Linked DNA regions of Homo sapiens. The protein of the gene in region 2 interacts with the protein of the main gene of each other region in a pairwise test. Each region holds a gene or a part of one and is shown on either strand. Other genes may lie near its edges.

What was found. Proteins that work in one complex are often made in the same cells at the same time.
Region 1: the proteins of INSRR (region 2) and CTDSP2 interact in a two-hybrid assay, tested with the Homo sapiens proteins (one study listed by BioGRID and IntAct).

Annotation. Positions count from the first base shown.
Region 1 is NC_000012.12:57,836,730-57,840,229, reverse strand, and holds part of CTDSP2 (carboxy-terminal domain RNA polymerase II polypeptide A small phosphatase 2), read left to right. Parts: intron 1-3,015; exon of another isoform or gene 3,016-3,139; intron 3,140-3,500. UniProt on the Homo sapiens protein: Preferentially catalyzes the dephosphorylation of 'Ser-5' within the tandem 7 residue repeats in the C-terminal domain (CTD) of the largest RNA polymerase II subunit POLR2A.
Region 2 is NC_000001.11:156,842,118-156,845,617, reverse strand, and holds part of INSRR (insulin receptor-related protein precursor), read left to right. Parts: intron 1-204; coding exon 205-246; intron 247-321; coding exon 322-542; intron 543-774; coding exon 775-911; intron 912-993; coding exon 994-1,156; intron 1,157-1,337; coding exon 1,338-1,443; intron 1,444-2,138; coding exon 2,139-2,191; intron 2,192-2,384; coding exon 2,385-2,614; intron 2,615-3,109; coding exon 3,110-3,220; intron 3,221-3,346; coding exon 3,347-3,500. UniProt on the Homo sapiens protein: Receptor with tyrosine-protein kinase activity. Functions as a pH sensing receptor which is activated by increased extracellular pH. Activates an intracellular signaling pathway that involves IRS1 and AKT1/PKB.

The DNA.
Region 1 (3,500 bases), on a different chromosome or scaffold from region 2:
ACCCCCCACCTGGGATCTGCTGAATCAGCGCATGGGCAGGTGGGTCAGGCATGCATGTGTTCCAAATGCTCCTTGTGGCTCTGACAGGTGCCCCTGGAGAAGAGCCAGGTAGGCACAGCAGTGGCCCCAACTGCCTGTTTTGCCCCGAGCAGGAAAATTCCTCTTGGTGGTCCCGTTTTACTGTATGTTAAAGATCTGTGGCTCTTCAAGGGGAGTCCTAAAGTTTTCAGAGTAAATGGACAGAGTAATGATCCATCCTTGTTTACCCAGTAATGGTTACAGCCAATATTTATAGAGTACTTGCCATAGGCAAGGTACTATTCCTAGCATTTTATATCTCGTATCTCACTTAGTTCTCCTGACAACTTTTCCTTTCCAATAAGAGGAATTAACCTCACTTTACAGATAAGGAAAACTTTCACAGGGAGAGGGAAGGACTTTGCCCAAGGGTACATGGCTAGTGTCAGCCAGACATTTGCATTGTCTGGCATTTCACTTTTTTTTTTGAGATGGAGTCTTGCTCTGTCGCCCAGGCTGGAGTGCAGTGGCGCGATCTCGATCTCAGCTCACTGCAAGCTCCACCTCCTGGGTCTATGCCATTCTCCTGGCTCAGCCTCCTGAGTAGCTGGGACTACAGGCGCCCGCCACCACGCCCGGCTAATTTTTTGTATTTTTAGTAGAGACGCGGTTTCACTGTGTTAGCCAGGATGGTCTTGATCTCCTGACCTCATGATCCGCCCGCCTTGGCCTCCCAAAGTGCTGGGATTACAGGCTTGAGCCACCGTGCCCGGCCTAACATTTCACCTTTTAGAGTGCTTTTGAGTTCATGATTCAGGTGCATGCTTCAGGTGAAGCCACCTTTTAAGGGACCATGCAGGGGAAACCTTTCCAGATTGGCTTATGAGGAAACTGAACCCCAGAGAATTGTGCCCTAGCAAGGCCACGGAACTGTTGAAAAGCTGAACTGGAGCAAGAGCTGGGTTTCCTGACTTCTAGATCAGTACTTTCTCAAGTGGACTCACCTATACGGCTTGGCTGGTCATAGGTGAAGCTGAGGGGTGTGGGGGGAGCAGCAGAATGTCCCTGGAGATGGGTGCCTCCCTGGCAGACTCCTTCCATTCCTTCTGCAGAGGCCAGCCATATGAAGGAGGAACTGGTTGGCCAGCCTCAATGAGTGTGTATGTGTGTGTGCGACTGATTCGTTTTTGTGGAGTCCCGGAAAACATCATTTCCGGTTTGGCCCTGTTACTACCTCTGAAATGAGTTAGAAGAAATCTCTATGGTCCCTTTAATGTGAACATTTTGAGATGGAGACTGAGGTAAGAGTATGAAAGTACTTTGCACTTAATGAGTAGCAGTTGACACTTACAAAGCTTTTGTTAGGACCAGGACACTCCCTGAGCTCCCTGCAATTCTGACACTGAGAAATAGGTAGTCTTCCCATTTTGCAGATGAAGAAACTGAGGCCCATGGCTGCATACCTTACACATGGCAGAGCCTAGATTCGAACTCAAGTCTGGGTGCCTTGTGTCACCACTGTATTTTTCCCTGGTCAGAACAGATACCCTTGCTTTGTCCTGTGTCCTCACTGCTTTCTCCAGCTCACGTTTGTATCAACCTAAAGCAGGCCTACATACCTGGAAGGGAAAGAAGCAGTGGATTCTTCCTAGGCTTCAACTATATCTAAGCATTCCAGGAGTCAAGGGCACAGCACTAAGGCAGGAACTTGAAACACTCACTGAGAGGTTGTCTGTGTGTAGCCCCTCCCACAGGGGCTTGTTATACACCTCCTTAGGGGGAAGGAGGGGTAACTCCAGGTAGGCAAGTGTGGTTTCCAATCCCTCACAATGATACCTTTGCTCTGGCTGGTGCTACATAGGGCAGGGTCTCCTGCTGAGGCAGGGGCAGGATCCAGTCCTTTGAGTTTTCTTGGATGGCATCTCAGGCTTGTCCCTGCTGCCCTGTGGGCTATTAGATCACTTCCTGACATCCCTCAAGAGTCCTCTGGAGTGGGGCTTGCAGGGCTGAGCCTGCAGCTGACTTGTCTATGAGGAAACGCCTCCTCTGTCTCTGGTCCAGGATCTGCTACTTATGGAGGCCCACCCCAACCCAGCACGTTTTTAAAGTACGTTGGAGCTGCCCAGGAGGGTGTTTTGGCAATACCTCCTTTAGAGGCTGATTCTGAAATCAGCGTGCTTTAGAACTGCCAGAAATCCCCTGCTCCCAAAACTGAGTCCTCTTACCTCTCTAGCTGAGGTCAGAGAACAGATTGCTGAAGGGGCAGAGACAAGAAAGTGTGTGACCTGTGACCCTCGCCCCACAGGTGGCATTAAGGACTCAGGTCTGAAAGAAGAGACAGCCATATAGGGAGCTCTCCTGCCCAGGGAAAGGGAACTAATGGAGACACTGGCTTAGGTAGAGCTGCCCCAGTTGCTGGTGCAGAGAGGGCACCAGCATACAACATGCTGGTATGGGCCAAACAGCATGGCTAAAACTGCTTTTTAATTTTTTAAATTTTATTTATTTATTTATTTATTTTGAGACAGAGTTTTGCTCTGTCCCCCAGGCTGGAGTGCAATGGTGTGATCTCGGCTCACTGCAACCTCCACCTCTTGGATTCAAGTGATTCTCGTGCCTCAGCCTCCGGAGTAGCTGGGATTACAGGAGCTCACTACCATACCCTGCTAATTTTTGCATTTTTAGTAAAGATGGGGTTTCACCATATTGGTCATGCTGGTCTCGAACTTCTGACCTTAAGTGATCCCCACTGCCTTTGCCCCCCAAAGTGTTAAAACTGCTTTTTTCAAAAAATGCCCATGCAGTTAGATACACAGCTACTTTTTGGAACTTCGGGAGCCGGTGCTAAGCTGGGTCCGGCCCTGCCTTGCTTGTTAGCTGTAGAGAACAGTGTCAGTGGCCAGGCATGAAAGCAGTACACCCTCCCCATTGTTTGCAGTCTTTTGTGTGTGGGGGCTGTCTAGGCATCTCACCCTCTTTTGTTCCCTGCCGACTCACCTGCTGGTCCCAGGAGCTCTTCCGTCCACCTGGCACTTTAGGGCATGTCCATAGCCAAGGAACAGATGCCCCTTGCAGAGGACCTGGGAGGACTTCTCTCCATGGGGGAGTCCCAGTCAAATGTGTCTTGGCTGCAGGGTTCAGGCAGCCGTCCAAGAAGGGCCGGAAATGCTCCAAATACTCTCCTTCCTCCAATAGCTGAGAGGAAGGAGGCCCCTCAGAGGGGCCATTTTATAGTGATAGCCAGGCTAAGGCTAAGTCCTTTGCTGTGGGGGATGGGAGGTGGTGGGGAAGGAAGTACTTCTGGGGATGAACCAAAAAAGAAAGCAACTTTCTACCTGAATGGGCTTGTTAAAATCTGATTGTCTCAGAGGTTACCTTCTGCTGAATCGCAGGCAGATGTGTGAGGAGTTCCTTTGCTGGGACACAAAGCTGTGTTGTTGACAAAAGTGGTATCTGGACCTGACTTTCAGGAGAAGATTAAA
Region 2 (3,500 bases):
TGCGAAGAGCGCGCGCGGCCTGGGAGGGTCTGATGAGTGGGGCCTGTGAGGGGCGGGTCTTGCGGGAGGGGTGGGGTTTGTGGGTGGGGCCTTGCTTGTGTGGGCGGGTCCCGGGTTGTGGGTGCTTTTGGAGGCGGTACGCGCTGCAGAGGGCACAGGGGTGCATCCGGACAGGCCTGATAGGGCTACTCCTGGCCTCCCCAGATCCCCTTGGAAGGTGACGTCCATCAACAAGAGCCCCCAAAGGTGAGCAGGACTAGGGCAGGTGCTGAGGGGCGTGGCTTTGGGGGCTGGGCCTTGGCTCTGACTCGCTCTCCCCAGGGACTCAGGGCGGCACCGCCGGGCAGCTGGGCCCCTCCGGCTGGGGGGCAACAGCTCGGATTTCGAGATCCAGGAGGACAAGGTGCCCCGTGAGCGAGCGGTGCTGAGCGGCCTGCGCCACTTCACGGAATACCGGATCGACATCCATGCCTGCAACCACGCGGCGCACACCGTGGGCTGCAGCGCCGCCACCTTCGTCTTTGCGCGCACCATGCCCCACAGTAGGTGATCCACACACACACCTTCTACCCCCATCACCGACCCCAAGGACCCTGTGCAAAGGTTTGGGGTTTGACTTCTCGCTAACCCCAGAGCCTCGCTTTGCTTGCCCCTCTCAGTTCCCATAATCCCAAAGCTTTCCCCACCTCCCAGCTCAGCCCAGTTTAGCTTGGGTTTGAACATAAGGTGAGATGAACCACTTTTGGCCCGGCTGCTGGATGCCCCTTCCCGCAGGAGAGGCTGATGGTATTCCAGGAAAGGTGGCCTGGGAGGCCTCCAGCAAGAACAGTGTCCTTCTGCGCTGGCTCGAGCCACCAGACCCCAACGGACTCATCCTCAAGTACGAAATCAAGTACCGCCGCTTGGGAGAGGTAGGTGCCCGTGGGACCCCCGTCCCAGCCCCGTTTTGTGCCTACATCGCCTTCCCAGCCAGCTGTTCTGCGTTACTCTCAGGAGGCCACAGTGCTGTGTGTGTCCCGTCTTCGATATGCGAAGTTTGGGGGAGTCCACCTGGCCCTGCTGCCCCCTGGAAACTACTCTGCCAGGGTTAGGGCAACCTCACTGGCTGGCAATGGCTCTTGGACAGACAGTGTTGCCTTCTACATCCTTGGCCCAGGTATACACAGCCTCTGTCACAGACCTGTATCACCGAACAGCCCTACCTGGTCCCCAGCCCACCACAGGCCCCTCCCCCGCATCCCTCCCCATCCTCACCTCCCAGCATGGAAAGAGAAGCATGACCTTCCCTCTGACTTCTACATCTTTGACTCTACCCTCTGCTGCCCTCTGACTGCCAGAGGAGGAGGATGCTGGGGGGCTGCATGTCCTCCTCACTGCCACCCCTGTGGGGCTCACGCTGCTCATCGTTCTTGCTGCCCTTGGTTTCTTCTACGGCAAGAAGAGGTGATGATAAGTCCCACCGGTCCCCACCCCCTTTTCTCCCTGAGCCCTCATCATAAAGTCTGTCAAAGGGAGGTAGATGAGACAGTAGAAAGACAGGTCTTCCATACAGGCAGTAACTCTTCCCCTGCGGTGGCACAGAGGAAACATACCTCTCAGTTAGGGTGACCAACTCATCCCGGTTAGCCTGGGACTTTCCTGGTTTTATCAGTAAAAGTTGCACATCCTAGGAAACCTCTCAGTCCAGCCACACTGGGATTGTTGGTCACCACACTCTCACACCACCTGTCAGGTGTGAGAGTTTGTGCACCCAAGCTGAAAAATAATAGAGCTGTCCCTTATTAGGAGAAGAAGCAGGAGGCCTGGGGATGTGTTCCAGAATGCCTGATGTCAGATCCTTCCAGGGCTGACTGCAAGAGGAAAATGGGGCTGGACCTCGATCAGCTTGGCTATAGGGACTAGCTGACAGGGCGGAAGCCCCTTTACTCCTGTGTCCTCCCTATTCCCTGTTAGATCCCAGGAATAGGGCCAAGGCCAACTTGGAGGGTACTTAGGGATCCCCAGGAGTCACCCTGACCAAGGCTGGGGGTGTGGTCAGTAACTTCCCTCCTCCTTGAAATGTCCTTCTTCCTTCTTCTGATGTTGCTCATTCCTTCCTGAGAACCCTTCCAGCCTGACCCCCTCACCTCCCGTTGCAGAAACAGAACCCTGTATGCTTCTGTGAATCCAGAGTACTTCAGCGCCTCTGATAGTAGGTCTGGGAGTGGGTGGACAGGTGGTGTGGGAAAGGGAGACAGGAGAGGAGCAGAGACAGACTTCCAGAAGACCTTCTTGCAGAAGATAGCCTTGGGACAAGAGCCCTTCAGAAGAGGAGAAGAGAAGTTGGGGGGTGAGGTGTGGCAGAGAGCAGCATCCTCGCTTTGTGACCCTCCACCTCCTTGCAGTGTATGTCCCTGATGAATGGGAGGTGCCTCGGGAGCAGATCTCGATAATCCGGGAACTGGGCCAGGGCTCTTTTGGGATGGTATATGAGGGGCTGGCACGAGGACTTGAGGCTGGAGAGGAGTCCACACCCGTGGCCCTGAAGACGGTGAATGAGCTGGCCAGCCCACGGGAATGCATTGAGTTCCTCAAGGAAGCTTCTGTCATGAAAGCCTTCAAGTGTCACCATGTGGTAAGGGAGAGCCAAGGGCATTGTCAGGGTCATAATTAGTGTAAAGGTCATGTGGTAAGAAAGAAAGGGTCAGAGATGAGGTTAGGGCACCATTAAGGTCAAGATTGGGACCATGGTTAGGATCCTAATTGGGGTAAAGGTCATGGTTAGGGTTAGAGTCAAACAGGGTCATAGTAGGGCCACTGTAGAGTCATGGCTAGGGCTGAGATCAGTCATGATTGGGGCTCAATATTGGGTGTCCAGATCATTATTAGAGTCCTGATTGGGCTCAAGGCCAAAGTTGGACCAAGTTCGTGACTGTGATGATCATCAGATATGATGAAGGTCATGGGTTAGGGTCAGGGTCATTGTTAGGTCAGGAGTCAGGTTATAGTCATGGTTGGGGTTAGGGTCAGGTTTGGTGTCTGAGTCAGACTGTGGTCATAGCAGATCAGAATTTTGGCCAAATGGGTCAAGGGGAACTAGGGGGTCTGCTAGGCCCTTTGTCTGTCCCAGGTGCGTCTCCTGGGTGTGGTATCTCAGGGCCAGCCAACTCTGGTCATCATGGAGTTAATGACCCGTGGGGACCTCAAGAGCCATCTTCGATCTTTGCGGCCTGAGGCAGAGGTAGGGACCAGGAAGACCCTGGGGAGTGAAAGAAGGGTTGGGCACAGTGTGGGAGGTGGGGGCCAGTTCTGGACAGGAGACCAGCCTCTGGGTTCCTTCCTCACCAGCCCCCAATCTTGGCTCTAGAACAACCCTGGGCTCCCACAGCCAGCATTGGGGGAAATGATCCAAATGGCTGGTGAGATTGCAGACGGCATGGCCTACCTTGCTGCCAACAAGTTTGTGCACCGAGATCTAGCAGCCCGCAACTGCATGGTGTCCCAGGACTTCACCGTCAAGA